Linked DNA regions of Homo sapiens: region 2 is linked to region 1. The links come from fine-mapping of genetic effects on gene expression. A gene starts in region 1. The other region holds a variant in brackets. All regions are shown on one strand. Distances are from middle to middle.

Region 1 (8,649 bases):
TTTGTATCTGGGGAAAGGAAGCAATAGCTAGACCTTAAACAAAGGAATGAAAGGAGGATACTTACCTTAGCAAAATGATGCCTCAGAACATTTCGTGCCATTTTTGCATGCACCTGCTTGTGCTATTATGTAGGTGTACAAAAAAAAAACACTTTCTCCTATTTATTTGTTTATTTATTTAGAGATGCAGTATCACTCTGTTGCCCAGGCTGGAATGCAGTGGTGCAATCTCAGCTCACTGCAACCTCTGCCTCCCAGATTCAAGTGATTCTCCTGCTTCAGCCTCCCGAGTAGCTGGAATTACAGGCACATGCCACCATGCCTGGCTGATTTTTATATTTTTAGTAGAGACAGGGTTTCACCTTGTTGGCCAGGCTGGTCTCGAACTCCTGACCTCAGGTGATCCACCCGCCTTGACCTCCCAAAGTGCTGAGATTACAGGCATGAGCCACTGCACCCAGTCTTTCTCCTTTCTTTAGAAAAAATTATACCTTCATAGCTTTTCTTCATAGGCAAAGTCTGATCTATTGACATTGGCCATCTGAAGTGTTGTGCTGTGAGAAAGTCTAATACCAAGCTTGAGATTTTGGGGAGCGGGAGTCAGGGGCAAGACGACCAAGTAGAGATGTTTGTCACAGATGATGAGAGCTGTTGTGGTGGCATTCATACTTATTCTTTTTGCCAGCTATTTTTATTTTGTCTCTTCAAAAGAATATATGAAGGGAATAGTAATAATAATTATTAAAAACAGTAATAGTAACAGTGGCAAAGCTCCTTTCATTATATCATATAGTAAAAACATAATGTTATGGTTTTGTAATATAACATTACACTTTTTTTTGAATGTCTAAAGGGTATCTGAAAGTATAAGGCATGCAGAAAAAGATTTGGCTATTTACTAAATTTTAAGATCCTACTTGTCTAGAGCCTTATTGTGACAGAGTTTTTAAAAATGCCCCGAAATATGCAGCCCATGTAACAAAATGAGAACTTTACTGAAAGGCATTCACATTTCAAATCAAGATCAAGAGAAAATCCACAAATAGTATTGTGTGTTTTCTGCACAAAGGAGATCATTGAATTGTCTGTGCACTTGTATACTCACATTTTTAACTAAATTAATCATCACTTTTTTTCTGCTAGTTAATGCTCTCCAAAAGTCAGATGAATAAAATGATTGTACTGACTATTTGATTGTGCTGATTAAGTCAAAACTCTTTACCAACTATATTTCATTGGCTTTAAAATGTGGGCTTAAAAAGCATTTTAATATTTTAATATTCATTTGCTATTGATGGTATGCCATTGCTTTACTGAAAGCATTTTTTTCTTGGTGGTCCATAAAATAAAATTGTGCTTTACATTCTTGGGCGTCAAAGATCCAAAGAAATGCAGCAGGTAAGTCACAGAAAGAAGGAAAATCCTGACACAAAATCAATTCATAGAATATGAACTGATTCACTGACGTGCTTCATCATAGTTCTACCCCCATGGAATTACCCCCTTATCAATGTCATATACATTTCAGTTTTCTCGTGTAGTATTAATGCCTATTAAGTTTCTTCTGAGTGACAATTCATGGTAATTTACCTGTATCAAGGCCTGATAGCATTTCAGAAACTTTAACTCTTGTAGCAGAAATTCCTCAGAAGACTAGTAATTAGTGTGTTTCAATTCCAGTAGCAAGCATACTGTCACACTTTTATTTAAGCAGTTACTGAATCATGGAATTTAAAGGCTGAGCCAGGCCATAAGTTTGTTCCATTGTTTAGAATACAAAACTTAGATTTACAGAAATTTAATGAGTAGATCCTATCCCTCAGTTTATATCACAGAGCAAGACTGTTGTTCAAGAGAGCATGAGATTAGGTCATTAACATAATTCCCCTTGGTTTATAGGTCAGGCTGTTATGAAACTACAGAAAGAAATACACAGAAATAAAGAAAAAATTCTCCCTAGCAAAGATGAAGTTTTATCTAGTTTGAATCCCAGATAGGAAAGTAGGCAGCTGATTATTCACTGAAGAGTAGAAAAATATATGATCTTAAAATTGGAATGAGGAAACTCTTTAATAAGTATTTTCTAAGAAATTCAAACTACTTTGCATATTTTAAATCTTCTATAAGATTACATTATTGGAGAATTTTATGTTGTGTTTGGCCATTGGACCATGTCTAATTTCTCTATTTTTCACATTGGAAAGAATCCTAGTAAATGGTATTCCTAAAGAATTATATAATTTTGCTGTTGAGCATTTCTTTTTTTTTTTTTTTTTTTTTCCAAAACAGAGTCTTGCTCTGTTGCCCAGGCTGGAGTGCAGTCGTGCGATCTCGGCTCACTGCAACCTCTGCCTCTTGGGTTCAAGCAGTTCTCCTGCCTCAGCCTCCTGAGTAGCTGGGATTACAGATGCGCACCACCACACCTGGCTAATTTTTGTATTTTTAGTAGAGACGGGGTTTCACTATGTTGGCCAGCCTGGTCTCGAACTCCTGACCTCATGATCCACCTGCCTAGGCCTCCAAAAGTGCTGGGATTACAGGCGTGAGCCACCGCCCCCAGCCACTGTTGAGTATTTCAGAACTTCTCTTTGTATCATAAAGTTGTCATAGAAAAGAGTCCTTGAGACCAATGATCTTTCAAAGATTGGTATCTGACATTAATAACTCAAGAATGCAGTTTCACAAATTTTCCTTAGGGAGAACACTTCATAAAAATTGAGTTAATAAAATGATAAAATACAATGGCCATAATAGTTCAGAACTCTGGCAGACATGCCTTTATTAGTATTCTTGGGAAATAGAGAAAGCATAGTACCTGAGTCCAAATTATATTCTCAAGTCCAAAATATTTGCTGACATAATAATAGTTTCTACATAAAAATATATTCTTAGTAGAGAATTAAATTACTTCATTTGTAATTCTTATAGCAGGCTAAAGATAGCCAATTTGATGATCAAAACCATGGGGAAAACTTCCTTCTAAGAACAGAATGTGACTTAAGGCAATAGAGTAGACAGAGGATGCATAGAAACCTGAATGAATATTAGTTATTCTTCCCTGAAAGAGTTGAAATTCCTAAATTGTGCCTTGGTAAAAATTATTGTGCCTTGGTTAAAAAAAAAAGTATGTGTGTGTATATGTGTGTGTGTGTATAAATGAATCTGTTGTCATTTTACTCTGCTTAACCATTAGAGATTTTTATATGTATGCTTATATCTGTTGTTATACACTAATAGTACAATCATTACATAATCATGACATTTTAATTCTTAATTACAATGCCTTTCCAACTATATAAAAATATGTCTAGTGACACATATTTTGGAAAGCTTTCTTGGAAAAACATCCAGAGATTGTGTTCATCACTATCTATATAAATGAGCTTATACTGAACCTTAAATATGTTTATTCAGCCTAACAATCAGAAAAAGAAAACGTTTTTTAACAGTATAAAGTTCAGATGAGTCCACTTGTCTTGGAATTTTATTTTGATTTTAATTAGAAGAAAGACTGCCATTAGAATTGTTTTCTAATGAAATCTTTATAAATTCTCTGGGCAGTGCCCTGTATCTTTATTAGAAAGACTTCTTATTTTTAACAATTTTATTTGGAAGAAGTTCTACTCATTTGCATCAGTTCATCGTCTACATAATTTGTGTGTGTGTGTGTGTATGTGTGTGTTTACAACTTTGACTTTTGAAACTAGAATAGAATCAGGTAAAACATCTAAGATCAGTGTGCCAGTAATTGGCCTGAATCATCGGGCACCATGATGGGTTTGGCCGCCTTCAACGTACTCGGTGTACATTCTATTTTTTTCTTCATAATGTTCAGTACTGTAGTACTAATCACCGAGAAAATTGCATTGACGCTTTTCGACCACCAGGGAAATATTCAGCTCATGGTTCTCCCCTAAAAAAACTAAAAAGCAGCTAAGCGCTGGGAACAAATCTGACTTAATGCATTTTCTCAGTGGGCCAAAGAAAGGAGGGCCGATTGACTGCTTTGACTTTTTAAAGGTCTTCTCTTTGTTCACTTATAAAGTGAGGAAAACAAATTCTCGGCACTGGCGTGAGAGTTATTTGAGCGTCACAAAAGAAAGCAAAAGAAAATATTAGTGCCATTATTGTGGCGAATTTCATGTTTCCCAGCGAGCCCTTTGATTCCTGGTTTGGGCTGGCGCTCGAGCTCTCCAGCCGGGTATGACTTCGGCCACAAGATGGCACTGACCTGCAAACAAAGAAAAGCACAGTGGCACCGACTTTTTCAAGCCTCGGGAAACTGCCCTGCCTTCCCCGGAGTCGAGGACTGTGGGGATTAGGGCTTCCTTTCCCCTGCGCGGGAGGTCTGTGTCGAATAATGTGTGGCTTCTGTTGGATTGCTTTTCTTTCCAAAATTCCTAGGCAATGCTTCCCCGAGGTGTGCACCTTTGTGAGGTGTTTGTGGGGTTGGGGGAGCTTCAGGCGCTACTCGCGGGACGCCGTCACGTGATCCGGGATGAGGTGGAGTTCGGCTTTAAGGAGGCGTCTCTTCCTAGCTTCATCAATCTTTAGGATCTGAGCAGGAGAAATACCAGCGGATCTTCCCCACTCTGCTCCCTTCCATTCCCACCCTTCCTTCTTTAATAAGCAGGAGCGAAAAAGACAAATTCCAAAGAGGGTAAGTTGCGAGTTTATGCCTTTCCAGAGACTTCTGCGAAATCTCTCATTGACAAGGTGAAGGATGAGAGGGGAAGAAAAACGATGCGAGTGTCCGAAACTGGCTCTGGGGGACCAAGGTGGGGTCTCCAGTGCAGGCAGGTCGCAGGTTGCTCCAAATCACCGGACCGTTCGCGGGCTCCTGCCGAAGGGTATGGGGACGACGCGGGTGAAAGGAGAGGGTACCCTACGCGGAGTTCGGGCTTTCCCACCACCTGCTCCCGGGGAATTTCTGGATGGGGATCCAAGTTTTCCTTTACCCCGGTTCTCTTTAAAAGGCCGAGGCACTGGGAAGGCGCCCGAGTTCGCCTATCCCACACCCGCTCATTTTCCTTACGTGTCTTGAGCTGGCTGGAGGCGCTGGCTCTGGCCGCACCGGAGTTTTCGCGGAGTAACTGGCTGGGATGAGCCGGAGAAGGGTGGGCTTGGCGCGTCGCCCAGCGTCGCACGGGTCCCGCGGCAGGTGTCGGGCTGGGAGCTGGCGGAGGTGGGAGTAGCCCTCGGCGCGGACCCCAGCGCGCAAGCCCACCCCCACTTGCGGGTTCCGCGCTTCTCGGCTGCAATCGAGCCGCGCTCCGCAGTACCGGGCGCTTCGAGTGTGGCGCTGCGCCCCGATAGACACCCGAAGCTTTTAATCATCGGAGTTCTAATCAGGGAACTCTTTAGCTCTTTCTTTTAGAAAAGTAATGATGGAACGTGGCTGGGTTAGGAGATTGGGAATGGACAGGAGGTGGAGGTGTCTTGATAGGGTGTGCCATTGGTTCCCAGGTAGACTGGAGAGATAAGAATGTTTTAAGGTCTGATGTTGGGCCAAAGAGAGAGAATTGACTTCGGTTTGGGATCTGCTTGGTTTTGGTTGTTTATATCTTTTCTCTTTTGCCAGTCTCTTATCACTGGTAGAAAGGTTTTTTGATGAGAGAGAGAGAGAGAGTGAGAGTGTGTGTATGTGTGTGTAGTAGGGAGTCAGGAATGGAGTAAATTTCGGGCGATTCACCTAGTTACGCAATATGAAAAAGGTGGGTGGGTAAGCGTGCCAACAGGAATTTTGACTGAACATGTCCCATTTCCCATTTCGTTGTTTGATAACTTCTGGAGCACAGGAAAAACCTAGGGGAGAGGAGCAAAAGAGAGTGTGTTTCCATGTACACACACTCACACTCACACACACACAGAGCACGCATTGCTTCCCCCACTCCCCATCCTATGAGAAAGCATGACGGGCGGGATGGCACACACAGGCAGGGGACATGTGGAGCTTGTCTGTCAGGTCTGGAACAGAAAAGCAGTAGCTGTTTGTTCTCGACCCTGGGCCGGCTCTCTGGCGAAGCAAGCGAGGGAGCAGAAAGCTAACCCGACCAGGTTCCCCACCCAGGACTAGACCGAGTGCTCTTCCGTGACTACTACTTTATTAGTCTTTATTGTCTTAAGGCAGCAGTCTGTTGAACAAGCCCTCCCCAGCAAGGAAGGAGCAGAGAATTATGTAATTCATTTAGATAAGCTAGCAGTAACTTTGGGAGGCTGTATGTAACAAGGCTGACATTTCTTTTCCAACACAAGTGAGGTGAACAGCCAGCCAATCCTGAGTATTTGAAAAAATGTATCTGCAGCAGGTTATGATCAGGGAGCTGTATTTTCAAGTAGTAACAGCACTGCGAAGAGCAAGCAATGAAAGGCCAGCATTCTAATTGGAAAGAAAGAAGAGGAAATTTCCCTCTGCAAGGGGGCTAATTTGCCAACTGGTGATGTATGTAATGTCTGTTTTGTCTCTATATGCACATGGCAGCTACACTGAGATTTAACAGTCTTTAATTTTTGCAGTTTCTGCAGTTGCATAGCTTATTTTACAAATTATATTAGAATAGTAAATATCAAATTATTTTCTTTTGCAAAGATAAAGTGTGTAAATTCTCTCTTAGTATTGTTATTTTCTGACAGTTATTCTTTCTTGAAATTACACTAAGGTAAACTGAAAATACACATTTATCCAATGCAGAATTGGTTTACACAACTGGAATAACTATCAAATGTGCACTTAGTAAAATAGGCTTGAAAACACCTTAAAAAAATAAACTTTTCATTTTCTCTATAGCTAAATTAACTTCTACCTAGTAAGAAAAATGCTTCCTCATTGGGCATGCCTATTAAATACAATTTCAAAGGTATCAGGCTAGAGCTTCAGTACGTTTACCTGAACTCATCTGTAAGAAAGCTATGTTTGTAGCCTGTACTTTGCAATAATTTAATGTCTGTGTGAATTCTTATATGTATTCATTTTTGCCAAAATCAGTCAGTGGATAGAATATTTCTGTTTCTTTTTCTCCATGGTATACATCTTGGTCTCTGTCCCTATTATTTCTCGCCAAAATTATTGCACTAGCTTTCTAATGAATCTCCCCATTTCTTCTCTTTCCTTGAGTGTGTTGAAAACAGCAGCGAGAATAGTAATTTTAAATCAAAAGTCATAAAACTTCACACCTTTGCCAAAGACTCTCCAGAGGCTCCCCAGCTCTCTCAGGATTATAGGCACAGACCATAAAAAAAAAAGGCTCTACAGTCTGTACCCCCCTCTTTAGCCTTCCTAATTAATTTCCTAAGAGTCCCTCCCTTATTTATCCTACTTCTTATTGCTACTTAGCACACCAGTTACACATGGGCCTTAGGGATTTTTGTTCTTTCCATATGGGATGCAATCCCTGAGATACTTGCATAGCTTCCCTACTCACCACTCCTCTCAGGTCTTAACTTACATGCCTTCTTCTCAGACAGTCAGAGGCCATCTTTTACAGTCAAGTAATAAATTGCAGCTCCCCCAAATCCCAGTTTCTCTTTCTTTTTTTTTTTTTGAGACGGAGTCTTGCTCTGTCACCCAGGCTGGAGTGCGGTGGCCTGAACTTGGCTCACTGCAACCTCTGCCTCCCAGGTTCAAGCAATTCTCCTGCCACAGCCTCCCGAGTAGCTGGGACTACAGGTGTGCTCCACTCCGCCTGGCTGATTTTTGTATTTTTAGTAGAGACAAGGTTTCACCATGTTGGCCAGGCTGATCTCAAACTCTTGACTTCAGGTGATCCGCCTCGGCCTCCCGAAATGCTGGGATTACAGGTGTGAGCCACCTCGCCCGGCCCCAGTCCCTCTTTCTTGCTTTGTTTTACTTCATAATATGTATTATCATCTAGCATACTATATCTTTTACTAATTTTTTTCTTGTCTTTCTCTGCCCACAAGACTAGAAACACAGTGAGAAGGTCACATTATCTCCAGTAAAACCATGCCTAACACAAAATAAATGTTTAATTAATATTTGTTGAATGAATAAATTTTCTTTCAGAAATAATATTTTTATATAAAGTGTAACATTTTCCCCTATATACATGACCTAGGAGTACGGCTGTTGTGATTAGCATACATTTTGCCTGTTCAAGGACTATGATGGAATTGAGCTATTGATGTTAGGATTAATTTACCCAAGAACCTACTATTCCAACCATGCATCAGTTATATCAGTCAACACAGTTTTATTCTAAGTCTAATACTTGCAAGGTACTATGAAGTATGCACAATGCCTACCTCAAAGATGTTATATTAAAAATGAGAGGAGCCAACTAAGGATTCTAGGGACTAAATGGTGCTTTGAAAGATGGGTAGAGTTTGGATTGGTGGTGGGAGAGAGAGAACACCCAGCAAGAGGAATGGCGGAGGTGGAGACGCAGAGCTATATTTGGTAGACTGTGAACAGACTCACCTGCCTAGAGCAGTGTATTCACATTGGGATTATTAGAGTAAAGTGTGGACAAGAGGTATAATGCAGAGGTCTTAATGTGTCAGGCTGGGGAATGTACTTAGTATTCTGTCTCTCATGTGTCTCAAACCAGGGTCCTCATTCACCTGTTGGTACTTGGTGACAAGGATAAAAAGCTTTTCCCTACTCTGCTAGTTTTACTTCAAATAATGAAG
Region 2 (8,649 bases), 150 kb before region 1:
AAAGAAATAGATTGTCCCCCTGTATTCTCGTTTTGTTCTATTCTTTGGTGGCCCAAGTGGTTTCTGGCTTCAATTTTGCAGATGAGGCCAACACCTGAGTCAATGACTAGGCAGCCATGAAAAGAATCTGGGACCCTGTAAAACCCACTTGAGCAGAGCTGCCTGACTTCCAAGCATACTCTGAGCATTTATGTGAAGGAAAAATAAACTTAAATCTTGCTTGAGCCACTTCCTTTTTTTTTTTTTTTTTTTTTTTTTTTGGTTATTTTGTTACTACAGCTACATACCCTGAAAAATATACTACAGTAGAGTAATAAAAATTGAACATTTATTCTGAACAAAGATGCTGGAATAACCTTCCTTAAGCACCATTCTCAATAGTAATTTTGATTTATTTGATTGAATTTCAATAAAGCTTAATAGCCAGTGGTCATAATGATGACCATTAGTCATCAAAGAAAAGGTTAATGCTCCACATCCCCTTTATAAGAAGAAAGGCAGTTATTTGATATGTTTTAGAGAATTTAATTTAAAATCATACAAATGCCAAGGGTTTTTGGGTTTATCAGAGCAGTACTAAATCTCTCTGGAAAATTTAACCATAACAATGAAATTTTTTTGATAGTTCTTAAAAATTAAAATTTCATTAGACCATGCTTTGAGGGACATCTTTTTAAAATGACACCATAAGGGTTAGTAACAATTGGTGTAATTGGAAATTCCAAAGTCTTCTGGGTTCAAGAAGTAATATAAATGTGGGAATCAGAGGGGTGCTAGACATAAGGAGTAGTGTGAGTTGGGATACCGTTTTCTGGAGAATATATGCCCAGTATAAAGTATTAACATTCAAAACATTTTAAATGCTGTTCTGAGGCTATGAGGAAGTAACTGGAATGAGATTTACCCTCCAGCCATAAACAACTAGAAAGCTAGACAAAGTTTATAAGGTAATAGTTTTCATATATTGGAAAACAGGCAGCACAGGATCGTGGTCTATGAAAGAGAGAAAACATTATCTTTCTGGCTTTCTTCCTAGAGGCCCTTTCCAGACAGTGCTACAGGGAAGGGCATCTGACACACAGCATGGCAAATAAGGCAACAGAGATTGGAGCTCAGGAATCCTATGTTGGCTAGCATTTTGAAGGCAGAATGATTATAAGGAGAAACTGCCCAAAGAGCTCCAGAAATCTTTAGAGTACCTTTGCATAAAGCATACATCTTACATGGCCAGGAAAATGACAACTTGGGAAAGGTGATAACCAAACAGTTCCCAGAACTCACAGAAGCTAAGCCACACTTGAGTCCTAGCCAGCCAGAGTTGAGGGGCCTGATTGAACACACCGGCGCATTCGGTGGAAACCCTGGAGAGATTATGCTTTTGTAGGGGAGCTAAACTAACACTAGAGTAAAGCATACCCTACATTTGCCTTAACAGACTTAAAATACTCGAAAGGAATGAGTGGCTTCTCAGAACAAAGTCCAACACTCTTTAAAAATATACAATAAAATAAAATCCAACCTCCCAAAATAATGTCAAGCATTTAATTTAAAAACTAGATATTCCATAAAACTGGACAGTGTAACACATTATCAGAAGAAAAATTAGTTAATGGAAACAGAGAGACCGAATAATAGGCTTAGTAGACAAGGACTTTTAAAAAAATCTTCTTAAAATATGCTAGAAGGGCCAGGCATAGTGGCTCACGCCTGTAATACCAACAACTTTGGGAGGCTGAGGCAGGCAGATCACCTGAGATCAGGAGTTCAAGACCAGTCTGGCCAACATGGCAAAACCCCGTCTCTACTAAAAATACAAAAAATTAGTCAGGTGTAGTGACACACACCTGTAGTCCCAGTAACTGGGCAGGCTGAGGCAGGAGAATCGCTTGAACCTGGGAGGCAAAGGTTGCAGTGAGCAAAGATTGCTCCATTGCACTCCAGCCTGGGTGATAAGAGTGAAACTCTGTCTCAAAAAAAGAAATTTTATATATATATATATATATATATATTTATATATATATATTCTAGAAGAATTAAAAGGAGATTAATATTATGAGGACAGTAAGATATAAAGAAGAACCAAATGGAACTTCTAATGATAAAAAGTATAATATTTGAAATAAAAAATTCAAAGGATGGGATTCAGAGCAGATTAGACACTGCAGAAGAAAAATTCAGTGAACTTTAAGACACTGCAATAGAAACTATCCAAACTGAAGTTCAGAAGGGGAAAGAATAAAAAACAAAAAGGAACAGAACCTCAGAGACAGAAAGCAAATCAGTGGAGCCTAGGGTGAAGAATAACTGAATGCCAAAGCATACAGGAATGTTTGAGGACGATAGAAATATTGAAGTTATATTTTGATTGTTGTGATAGCTAAATAGAAATAAACATTTGCCAAAATTCATTAATTTGTTGGTTAAATGGATTAATGTTATTACTGTTATTGTTTGTTGTTTGTAACTCAATACATTTGCTAAAATATTCTAGCCAAAATAAAATCTCAACAAAGGGCTGAATTTGACCTGAGGATGGGAAGGAGTTAGGTGGGACATGGCGCAAGTACTAATCCACTATTTAATGCATACAATAGTAGTATCTAATAAAAATGGTTTATAGAATGAATTAAATTCCTCTCATATATTTAAAGCTGATCATACTGATTTACAATCAGTAATATAAGTCTAATACCTTGGATTTTAAAAAATTACTATTGCTATCATTTGTTATTATATTTTAGTTTTCAAAAGTAAGAGATTTTGTTGTAATCTACTTCAAGGTTATTATCTGGATGGAAGGAAAAGCATTTTCTCCACTAAATGTAGCTAGTCTATATGAGAATAAATCCAGCTATATCATTTTCATATTTCCATCATACCCAACCATCTAGGCCAGACAGCAAATGAATATGATAAGGTATCTGAGTGTTTTCTATACATAAAGCCCATGTACCAAGTTTAAAAATCCTAGTTTTTGAAGAGATAGTCAATGTAATAACAACAACAGCAACATAGCAATAGTAATTATACAAAAAAGACCAAAGTTGTAGGTGTGTGGGTGGGACCAGGCACTGAGAATAAAAATACTGAGTAAACTACATTTTCTAGAGCCCCTTCTCTTCTACTGTGAGCCGTCTTGATTGTTTTTCTTGTTTTTTTCCCTGATTACTAGACTTACAGGAGCTTGTTTAGGGGATCTATTTTTGTATCTCCCAGAAATGTTTTCAGTTGAAGATAACAGAAACTCATTCATAAAGTGGGAATATTTAATTTTTTTCTTAACAAGGAGTCTAGAAGAAGCTGGTCTCAAGGCTTGTGGACCCACGAAGTTATGAAGAACTCATACTTTCTATTTTTCCAGTCTACCGTACTAAGCACGTTAACTTTTATCTGTAGGTTTTTTTTTTTTTTAATCATGGAGTCTCACTCCATCGCCCAGGCTGGAGTGCAGTGGCGCCACCTCAGCTCTCTGCAACCTCCACCTCCCAAGTTTAAGCAATTCTCTTGCCTCAGCCTCCCAAGTGGCTGGGATTACTGATGTGCAGCACGTTGCCCAGCTAAGTTTTGTATTTTTAGTAGAGACAGGCTTTCACCATGTTGGCCAGGCTGGTCTCAAATTCCTGCCCTCAGGCAATCCGCCCACCTCAGCCTCCCAAAGCGCTGGGCGTTAGCCACTGTGCCCGGCCTGCACTATTTATTTTAATTTCTTTTAGGTTTACAGGAAAAGTGGCTAATAATTGATCTACAGCGCCTGGCCTTATCCTTAGGCTTTTGGCTGCTATAGCTCCAACACATCCTCTGGTGGTGGTGGTAGAGGGGTTGAAAAGAATGGCTGGGCGTGGTGTCTCATGCCTGTAATCCCAGCGCTTTGGGAGGCGGAGGTGGGCGGATCACCTGAGGTCAGGAGTTCAAGACCAGCCTAGTCAACATGGTGAAACACTGTCTCTACTAAATGACAGAGCAACAAGAGCAAAACTCCATCCCAAAAAAAAAAAAAAAAGAAGAGATCACAGTTCTTCTTGTACTCTCTCCTGTTTACCAGGAAGAAAATCTTTAATAGAAATTATTACCAGCTGGGAGACCAGGCAGGAGGATCACTTGAGGCCAGGAGTTCAAAACCAGCCTGAGAAACATAGCAATACCCCATCTCTAAAAGAAAGAAACGATGAGAATTATTACACCCAAAGCAGACTTTTACTTACATCTTATTGACCAGAACTGGGTCAATAAGTGCTGACTGCCATTACTAGCCAAAGGGAATGGCATTGTGATGCTGGTCCTACATTAATTATGATTTTCTCCTGGGACTAGGAGCTGGGCCAAGTTTCTTAAATTTGTTGCCACCTCTCTCTTCTGCCCCTTCTCTCTCCACCGCAAAATAAGGACTTGTAACTGTGGAAAAAGTGGGATAGCATCCTACAGATGCATCATAATAGCATCTGTTAAAATTTTCAAAGCAATAATCCAGGAAGATAAAGTACATTTTTCTTTCCAGGAGACTTATTGCCTTACACAAGAATCTTATTCTCATTTGCTCCATACTTTAGCTTCCAAAGCCAACCAAATTTAAACAGTGGAAGCAAAAGATGAATTCAGCATTTATGTATTTTATATAATTCCATTTTAACAAAACTTAACAGTTTAAATAAGATTTAAGTAAAATTTCAGCGTTCCCAACTCCTAAATATCACTCACCCTCACATGGCAAAATATCTATTTTCACAAATCAGTGTAGACCTACTCAGTAATCGGTAATTGTGTGTTCTGTTTTCTCTGCTGCAGCTCAGTAGAAATTACACTTATCAATTGCTACTATTTAAGTTTTTCCCTCATAGCTACTTGTATTGGTAATCCTGTTAGATTTTGTTTTCATGTGAAGTACACGCTATAATGAATACTTTTAGATACTATGAGAAAAAATTAAGTGAAAAATTTAAGCAAAGTTAAAACAAAAATTATTGCTGCTTTTAAATAGACTTTAAATTGGGGTCAAAAGTGGCAGCCTGAAGGTATATTTTATTTTTCCAACAAAATGTTTATA[A/C]GTTTTTCAATTTTGAATGCCTTTAAGTGGTCTTGTATTCTCCAGTTTAACACAGGCCCCTCTAACCCTCTTATAGCTGACATCCAAGCACTCGTGGTAACTCCTTATCCCAGTAGGCACTTGAATTTGCCAATCTCTGCTTTGTCTGGATAAACCAAGATTAATAATAAATGAATAATGTTTTCCTATTTGCAGAACATTTTTGACTGGCTTCCAAAATGATCTCTAAAATGAATAATGAACTTTTCTCCAAGACAACTACATTTTTGGCGTGCTGGTTTAAAAGTTTTTGGCTGACATTTTGTCAGCCAAATAGGGTTTGGCTCCCCTATTTTGTCTTCTAAATAGGGGAGAAGGTGGTATCACGTCTTTGTTTGATTTATTTGACGAAGTTGTGTTCCCAGCCATATTGGGTAATTTTGCATTATGAAATTGTGCATACTTTAAACAAGTTGAGTATTCTTTAGTTGAAATTATTTGCTTGAGACCAGAAGTGTTTTGGATTTCAATTAAAAAAAAATTTGGAATATCTGCATTATACTTAACAACGGAACATTCCAAATCAGAAAAATCCCAAATCCAAAATGTCCTTTGAGCAGTTCCCCTGAGTAACATGTCAGTGCTCAAAATGTTTCAGATTTTGGAGCATTGGAAACATCAGATTTTCAAATTTGGGATGCTCTACCTGTATTTATATATTTTCAATTGTATATTTTAAAATATATTTCAAATTTAAAAGACTAAAATGCTTAAAGAAAATAATTAACAGCTTATATATGTTATTTATATAACATATTAATATAAAATTAATTTTATATAAACTTAATATATATTACATATATTGATATGAGTTTTTATATATAATATATATACTTTTATATATAGTATATCTTTCCAGATATTTTACTATATATATACTTTTATATATTTATATATATATATATATATATATCTTTCCAGAGTTCCTTTTACAAAATCTCAGAATGGTTTATAAGTATTTTACACATAATTTATAAAATATTATTTTCTATATAGTATAAAAAATTCACACGGTCTCACAGAATGATAGAGGGAAATTCACACTCACTATCTAGGGTATTAAATCTCCAAGACTACATTCTTCTCTTAATAAAATTGACCTTTGCTAATGTTAAAATTTTTTTATTTAATACTTTAGGAAATAGCTGTGCAATGTTTTAAATGAGTGAAAGAATGTGGGAACTTGGAAAGAAATGTTAAGAAGTCCCATGTTTTTATTCATGGGAACATTGCCTCATAAATCATTTTTGTACTATCATGTTTACTAATTGTGTGGATTTATTAGAGTTCTTTTTGGCCAAAATAATGGTGAGCTACCTGTGTTTATATTAACTACTTTCCTGTCAGCCTGTAGTAGTTTGCTATTATTTTACTGTGATTATTATTTTTTCTCTAATTCCCATCTTCTGTACTACCAGTTCTAGCCTAGTCTGCTTGTATTTCCTCCTCCTTTATTTGTCTAAAAAGATAAACAAGCTTTAATTTGCAAAGGACATGGAGAGTTATGGATACATGATGACCTCTTAAGAACTTCTCCAATGCCAACATTCCTGCAACAAGTCTTAAAATCAGTAGTGTCATATTATTACTATTTATTCTAATATGTGTCCTTAAAAGTTAAAATGATAGAACTAGTTGAAATAGCAAATAACATTTGAAATATTTTTCTGAGATATAATGCAAGAGATAATAAGTATAAAGAGTAACAACACCCCCTGAGTTAGTTGTTTACAACCCTGACTGAACATTGAAATTGCCTGGGGAAGATTTTAAAATTACTGACGCCTAGATCTATTGCCTAGAAATTCTGATATAATTGGTCTGGAGTGCAGCATGGACATGAGATGTTTTTAAAACTTCCCAGATAATTCTAAACTACAACTAATGTTGAGAACCACTGGTCTCAGACTATCTCCAGATTATGTTATTAACCTTGACTACCCATTATAATCAATGGATGTATTTTAGAAACATAGCTTCCCAGACTCCAGGTCCAGAAATTCAAATTCTATTTTTCTGGGATGGAACCAGGCATTGTGTTTCTTATGTGCCCTAATTTTAACGTGAAGTTAAGGTAAGAATTATTGCTCAAGAAACCAAGAGGTTTAACATCGCAATATGGGAAGGTATGATATATTATCATTGTGTTTTTTTTAATTGTTGTTTTATTGATGACAAACCATAACCTTGGCCTGCTAGAAGAGTTCAATGGCACAAATTTAGTTTTTTTTGTTTTAGACGGAGTCTCGCTCTGTCTCCCAGGCTGGAGTGCAGTGGCACAATCTGGGCTCACTGCAAGCTCCACCTCCCAGGTTCACGCCATTCTCCTGCCTCAGCCTCCCGAGTAGCTGGGACTACAGGTGCCCATCACCACGCCCAGCTAATTTTTTTGTATTTTTAGTAGACACGGGGTTTCACCGTGTTAGCCAGGATGGTCTCGAACTCCTGACCTTGTGATCCGCCTGCCTCGGCCTCCCAAAGTGCTGGGATTACAGGTGTGAGCCACAGCACCCGGCCCACAAATTTAGTTTTTTAAAGTAAGTAACTTTGTCTTAAAAATGATTTGTAGTAATAGTCATTAAAAGATAAACTGAGGCACATTAAAATATTAAAGCATTTATTTGACCATTCAGTGATTCATGAATCTGGTAGCTCCTGATAAAGGAGCCAAGGAGAAGGCTTTTATAGGGTGAATTTGGAAGCAAAGGAAAGATATTTGATTGGTTAAAGTGGAGTACTAGACTTATTTGGGTCATCCCAGTGGAAAGTCCCCAGTTAGAAGTTAGCTGGCAGTTTCTGATTGATTAAGCTTAAATTTCCTTTTTATCATTTACACTGATTTGGGTTTCCTTTCCTTAGGTAGGAACTCATGGAGCTGAAGCTACCTCAGCCTACTGGCCTTCTAATTATTTCAACACAGAAATAGTACTTTACGGCACACTGGAGTTGCAATTCTATTCTGCAATTGGGTGGTTTCAGATTTGTTCTTCCTATAAATTTTGGTCAAATTAGTCATTGCATTTCTTTCTATAAGTCTGAGATTCAGATATTTGGTTGCTCTGAGAAAGTCTCTGTTGAGATAGCATTGCCATACTGGTCAGATTGAAAGTGACTTTGTATCCTTTCTATTAATGTTCTGATATGAAAGAGTGATGACTCGGATATAGTGTTAATGCATTAAAAAAGCACAGCCTGACAAATCGCTTCCTATAATACACAGAAAAATGTCTAGTCTTGAATTTATAACACAGGGAAAGGTAAAAAATTTAATTATGCTTCCTAATGTTGAACATGCACGTGACAAAGTAAATACTAAAAATCCATTCAGCTGGGCGTGGACAGGGAGAGGGAACGGTGCACATCAGAGGGTGCAGGCTACTCCAACGTTTCCGTTTCCTCAGTCTCGCGGGAAGCTCCGTTGTGGGCGCCCCGGCTGGTGGCTGAGCTCAGGCCTTCAGGCAGAGGGGAGGCGAGGGCGGGGCGGTCACGTGAGAGCACTGCCGCGGTGGGTTGTGGGGGTGCTGCGGCGCCGTTTGCTTTGCCAAACCGACAAAAGAGAGATGATGGCC

Direction of the effects. Alleles are on the strand shown, and positions count from the first base shown. SD is a standard deviation of normalised expression in the study named.
In carriers of allele A in region 2, the expression in gastroesophageal junction of the gene that starts at base 4,546 in region 1 tends to be higher than with C alone (small effect, 0.23 SD a copy in GTEx).

The links. PIP is the estimated chance that this variant, and not a neighbour inherited with it, causes the effect. A credible set is the group of variants that fine-mapping cannot tell apart.
Region 2: its variant is the best candidate, but not a certain one, in a credible set for the expression of NPY1R in gastroesophageal junction (GTEx, PIP 0.57).

The regions. Positions count from the first base shown.
Region 1 is chr4:163,328,493-163,337,141 of GRCh38, reverse strand. NPY1R (neuropeptide Y receptor Y1) reads left to right here and starts at 4,546. Exons shown (of 3, transcript NM_000909.6): 1 at 4,546-4,660.
Region 2 is chr4:163,473,726-163,482,374 of GRCh38, reverse strand. TKTL2 (transketolase like 2) reads left to right here and starts at 8,621. Exons shown (of 1, transcript NM_032136.5): 1 at 8,621-8,649. The coding sequence starts at 8,641. RefSeq lists a silencer at 1-38. The variant A/C (reference allele first, on the strand shown) is at 5,042.